Regions from separate parts of the Homo sapiens genome. Here region 1 is linked to region 2. The links come from fine-mapping of genetic effects on gene expression. A gene starts in region 2. The other region holds a variant in brackets. All regions are shown on one strand. Distances are from middle to middle.

Region 1 (2,904 bases), 720 kb after region 2:
AATTTTTCTTTTTCTTTTCTTTTTTTTTTTTTTTTTTTGAGACAGAGTTTCGCTCTTATTGCCCAGGCTGGAGTGCAATGGCACGATCTTGGCTCACCACAACCTCCACCTCCCGGGTTCAAGTGATTCTCCTGTCTCAGCCTCACGAGCACTGGGATTACAGGCATGCGCCACCACACCCAGCTAATTTTGTATTTTTAGTAAAGACGGGGTTTCTCCATGTTGGTCAGGCTGGTCTCAAACTCCCAACCTGAGTTGATCCACCTGCCTTGGCCTCCCAAAGTGCTGGGATTACAGGCGTGAGCCACTGCGCCTGGCCCTACACCTGACTAATTTTTGTATTTTTAGTAGAGATGGGGTTTCACCATGTTGTCCAGGCTGGTCTCAAATTCCTGGCCTCAAGTGATCTGCCTGCCCCGGCTTCCCAGAGTGCTGGGATTACAGGAGTGAGCCACCGCGCCCAGACTAAAAGTTACATTTTTAAAAAAGAGGTGACTTAAGATTTCATAGAAACCAACTTTTTGTAAAACTATGATAAGCCAAATACTTGGACCAGCCCTCCCACTGAGAAGTACCAAAAATGCTGACAAAATAAAAGGATGTTTTCTTAAAGGCATCCAGGGGCTGACAAGACAGTGAGGAGCCGCCAGGCACCATCTGGGGAAACCAGAAACCAGAGAGGCGAGCCAAGCCGCTCTTGCCCTGAAAACATCTGCCCCCATCCAGCCACCCCGGGCTTCCGATGAGAACTCTAAGGCTGGTCCCCACCCCACAGAGCAGTGATCATAGGACAGCCCTCACAGGACTTATGGCCCAAATTCACACCAGTGAGAAGATTCCAAAAGCTCACAGTTGATGGATTTAGTTTAAATTGGCTTTAGGCTGACAGCGCCCTGAGGTACCTGGCAGAAGGAAGCGTAAACCTAGTTTGGAGGAAGCATCTTTATCCTAGATCTGAAAAATTCCCACAAAGTCATTTTTCCAGGACAATGAGTAATGCAGTCAAAAGTAACCACACATTCACAGAAACAATGCCCCATGAGCAAGGACAGAAAAGGCCAGCAGCAGGACCAGATCCAGAGACTCAACATCTCAAAGACCTGAGGCAGACCATGAGGCTCCTCCACTTACCTGTACTCACGGAGGGAACCGATGAGCTTGAGAGTATATGTAACCAACAGCAAACGAGAAAAAAAATGACCTTGCAGAAAAACAGGTGTAGACATTCTAGAAATAAACAGCATTCAGCCCAATGGGTTTAACAGGAATAGGAGAATAAAAAGAGAATACCTACACTGAAGATACGTCAGAATAAATTATGCTGAATAAAGAAGAGCGAGAGGCCGGGCGCGCTGGCTCACGCCTGTAATCCCAGCACTTTGGGAGGCCGGGGCTGGGGGGGCGGGGGGCGGATCACAAGGTCAGGAG[T/A]TCGAGACCAGCCTGGCCAACACGGTGAAACCCCGTCTCTACTAAAAATACAAAAATTAGCCGGGCGTGGTGGTGTCTGCCTGTAGTCTCAGCTACTCAGGAGGCTGAGGCAGGAGAGTTGCTTGAACCCGGGAGGCGGAGGTTGCAGTGAGCTGAGATTGCGCCACTGCACTCCAGCCTTGGGTAACAGAGCAATAGTCCGTCTCAAAAAAAAAAAAAAAACAAAAAAACAGTGAGGAAGGTGGAAATATGAGTCTTAAACTAAGAGATGTGAAGCAGGGAGAGATGACATTTATTTGGATTTCAGAAGGTTGAGGCAAGAAGAAAATGGGGTAGAGGCGCTTTGTGAATAATTGATGATTGTGGATTCTCCAGAATTAAGGAAAAGCTACTAATCCACAGACTTAAAAAGCCCAACAGTCCTAAAGCAGGATAAATAAAAATAAAGCCACAGCTAGACAAATAATGAAACTGCAAAACACCAAAGATAAAGGGGAAAAAAGTCTTAAAAGTGTCCAGAGGAAGGAAAAATGACCTGTTCAACAGAACAAGCTCCCAGGTAAAACAAGAGCCCAAAAGGCAGCAGAGAAAGGGACAATTATGATTCTGAAAGATAATAACTGATATCTCAGATTTTACATTCAGTGAAAATATCTTTCAAGAAGTGGGGCAAAGGCTGGACATAGTGGCTCACACTTGTCATCCCAGCACTTTGGGAGGCCAAGGCAGGAGGATTGCTTGAGCCCAGGAGTTTGAGACCAGCCTGTGCAACAGTGAGACCCTGTCTCTACGCAAAAAAAGTGTTTTTCAATTAGCCAAGTGTGGCGTCACGTGTCTGTGGTCCCAGCTACTAGGGAGGCTGAAGTGGGAGGATTGCTTGAGCCCAAGGGGTCGAGGCTGCAATGAGCAGAGATTGTGCCACTGGACTTAGCCTAGGTAATGAGTGAGACTCTGTCTCAAAAAAAAAAAAAAACAAAAACAAAACAACAACAACAACAACAAAGAGTCTGAGTCTGGGTGCAGTGGCTCATGCCTGTAATCCCAGCACTTTGGGAGGCCAAGGCGGGTGGATCATGAGGTCAGGAGATGGAGACCATCCTGGCTAACACAATGAAACCCCATCTCTACTAAAAATACAAAAAAAATTAGTGGGGCGTGGTGGTGGGCACCTGTAGTCCCAGCTACTTGGGAGGCTGAGGCAGGAGAATGGCGTGAACTCAGGAGGTGGAGCTTGCAGTGAGCTGAGATCGCACCACTGCACTCCAGCCTGGGCAACAGAGCGAGGCTCCATCAAAAAAAAATAATAATATAAATAAATAAATAAAAGAAAAAAGACTGGCATAAGATACAAAAACAGGTCAATGTGACATGAAAGAGAGCCCGGAAACAGACCACAGGTGGATACAGACAGCACAGAGGAGCTCTGCAGCGCCTGGAGAACAGTTCCCAGGGGAATACTGCTGGACCAAGCACATC
Region 2 (2,904 bases):
GGAGACTGGCCGTGGTTCGAGAGGGGAGGGCTGCCGCTCTGGTGAAGGCTGGGCGCTGCAGCCTGCTTCATCTGCCTGGGCACCCAAGGGGCCCAGTAGGTCTGAAAAGGGGCTGCTAAGGCCAGGCTCCAGCCTCCCAGCTGGGGAGGCCGGCAAAGTGGCAGGTGCTGAGGCCTCTTCCACAGGAAAGCAGGTGACATCAGCAGGTGGAGGTGGAGAAAATGGAGTTGTGGGCCCTCGGCCCTCGGAGCAGCTGGTAAGGGGGAAGAGAGAGACTGATGGGCTAGGCTGAGGGCTTGCCAGACCCCCCTCCACCAGCCCACCTGATCCACCCTTAACACCCAAACCCGATCCACAGGTTCTGTGTAGCAAGAACCCTGTCCAGCGAGACTGCTGGCAGACACCCCTAGGGCCCAGTCCCTCAGCCTAGGGGTGGGAGTGGGGCATCCCCCACCCATATCACATACCGCTTCCTGCATCGTCTGAGCCGGCTGACTTCAGCGGGGCCAGGTGGGTAACTGTGTCCTTTGGTCTTGGTTGTCCGGCGCAACTTGGAGAAAGACTCAAATATGGTGGGGACTGCCCCCTCCTTTAGCCTGTGATATCCACTGCGGGGAAAAGCAACCCAGATGAGCTGGAGAGCAAGTGCTGCCTCCCCAGGCCAATCTGCCCCCAGCAGCAGCGCCGTGGGATGCTGGAAGGCATCGTGCAAACAATACGTCTGGGGAACGCCAAGTTACAGCTACACCAATCGCTTCCCCGCAGGACTCCTCACAGTCCAGGTGTGTGGAAAGCCTGCATAAGCCGAGCTGGGCTGACCAGCCAGAAAGAATTCTTTGATTTGTGGACTTGCTGGCAAGACTGGGGCTCTGAAAGATACTCTCTGGAAAGGCTCCTGTTTTCCCCTTGTGTCACAGGCACAGTGATCCTGGGGGTGGGTTTCACTGTGCAGAGCTGGGAACAGGAAACAGCCCCCTTGGACGCAGGCTGCTCAAGGGACTTCCATGACCTGCAGCTGTCCCAGTCCGCCGGGAGCCCCACATCCTACCCCAGCGTCGGCCGGCAGGGAGGCCCACCTGATTCCCACCAGCTCAAAGCAGTCCTCCTCAAAGTGTTTGGAGCAGAAGTAGATGTACTCGGATGCCGGGTCCCACAGGCCCTGGCCGCTGGGGTCCAGCCGCTGGCAGTTGGCCAGCCACAAGCCTCGCCTCGGGTTGTCCTTCTTGGGAAGTCTGTGGAGCCACAAACCCGTGAGCACCAGGCTGTCCACAGCCCTGGGCTCATGCTGCCCAAGCACCCCAGAGGGGAAACGCAGACCCAACACGCGCCGCCACGAGACCTCCCTGCGACCCCGCCGGGTAAGCACCACCGCCCGGGCACAGACGAGGCAACGGAGGCCTCGAGAAGAAAAGCAGTTTCCTCAGCGTCATCTGGCAGGTAACAGAGTGGGGCGGGTCCAAGCCGGCTAGACTTCCCGTCCTCCCCTTCCCGACTGCATTCAGTCCCGCCGGGACCGTTCCGCTTCACCTCCCACCCACAGGTTCAAGCCTCCTCAGTATCTGAGAAAGGCGCGAAGCCTCTACGCAGTTGCGACCCGAGGCGAGCAACAACTAGCGCATGCGCACGTGAGCCCGCGGCGCACGCGCGCTGACCTGTGGAAGGAGATGCCGCGGTTGCGCGTCTCGCGCGTGTCCCGTGTGCAGCAGCCGGCGGCGGAGCAGTGACGCGGCATCTGGGAAAGAGGCGGGAGTTAAGTCGCAAGCGGCTCTCCGGGCATCCGGAGGAGCCTCGCGCCTCCAGCCGCCGCTCCTCCCCAAGGGGCTCTGGCCTGTCGGGTCCCCCCCGGCCCGTTGTCGCCCCAACCCCGTCCCAGCCGATTCTCTTGACTTCTGTCAGCGGCACTCACGCTCTGGCCATTGCTGCGCCGCCGAAGTCTCGCGAGGGGTAGCGCGCGCCGGAAGTTGGTACCATAGAGACTGGAGAGCCGGAGGTGCCCCCGCCACCGGGGCGGGGCGGGGCGAGGTCCTAGCTAGCTGGGTTAGTAAGCGGCGCGAGCGTGCGAGTTTCTGACGCGCCCGCGTCGTCCCAGCTCCCTGGACTACCAGTATTGTCGCCCACGTGGGCTTCTCTTTCGTCCGCTCAGGCCTCACTTTTCTCCGTAAACACCCCGGCACGATGGAGCGGCCCCAGCGTTCGGGAGCGGCCCGGGAGCGGAAAGCGGCAGTGTCCTGGGAGCCTCGAAAGCCGCAGGGGCGGCAGCTCGCCTCGGAATGACCTCTGACGGAAGAAATAAAACGGGGCCTGGGACGCTTGCACGAAAGAACCCGACAAAAACCAGAGCCCGCACTCACTCTCGTACTGGGGAGGTGGACTTCAGGGAGGGTTATCTGGAGGAGGAATCTCTCAAAGTACAACACAGGAGAAAGACAGTATCGCAATACAGAAATTTTATTTTTTATTTTATTATTATTTTCCTGAGACCGGAGTCTCGCTCTGTCGCCCAGGCTGGAGTGCAGTGGCGCGATCTCGGCTCACTGCAAACTCCGCCTCCCGGGTTCACGCCATTCGGCTGCCTCACCCTCCACAGTAGCTGGGACTACAAGCGCCCGCCACCACGCCCGGCTAATTTGCAATACGGAAATTTTAATAGGTAATTAGCTCTCCTAGCGTTATGGTGGGGAATACAGAGGGATGGTTGCCTGCCGCACCCTCCCCTCACTATTCTTCGCCTTCTTCAGCCTCAGCTTCCACGGAATCCATGCCCACATCTTCATAATCCTCCAGAGCTGCCAGATCCTCGCGGGCCTCGGAGAATTCCCCCACTGCCATGCCCTCCCCCACGTACCAGTGCACTAAGGCGCACTTGGCCGAACTTATGGTCCAGGCAGGCCCAGGCCTCCGTGA

The links. PIP is the estimated chance that this variant, and not a neighbour inherited with it, causes the effect. A credible set is the group of variants that fine-mapping cannot tell apart.
Region 1: its variant is the best candidate, but not a certain one, in a credible set for the expression of THAP7-AS1 in spinal cord (GTEx, PIP 0.79).

Annotation. Positions count from the first base shown.
Region 1 is chr22:21,715,743-21,718,646 of GRCh38, forward strand. The region is part of intron 1 of YPEL1 (yippee like 1); the gene reads right to left. Among named protein-coding and RNA genes, the nearest start is that of YPEL1, 19 kb to the right of the region's middle. The variant T/A (reference allele first, on the strand shown) is at 1,429.
Region 2 is chr22:21,000,180-21,003,083 of GRCh38, forward strand. THAP7-AS1 (THAP7 antisense RNA 1) reads left to right here and starts at 1,743. Exons shown (of 2, transcript NR_027051.1): 1 at 1,743-2,650. It overlaps THAP7 (THAP domain containing 7), which reads right to left and starts at 1,939. Exons shown (of 4, transcript NM_030573.3): 1 at 1,653-1,939; 2 at 1,077-1,232; 3 at 468-608; 4 at 1-253. The coding sequence starts at 1,732. RefSeq lists an enhancer at 793-1,002 and silencers at 1,603-1,772, 1,793-1,902, 2,544-2,904.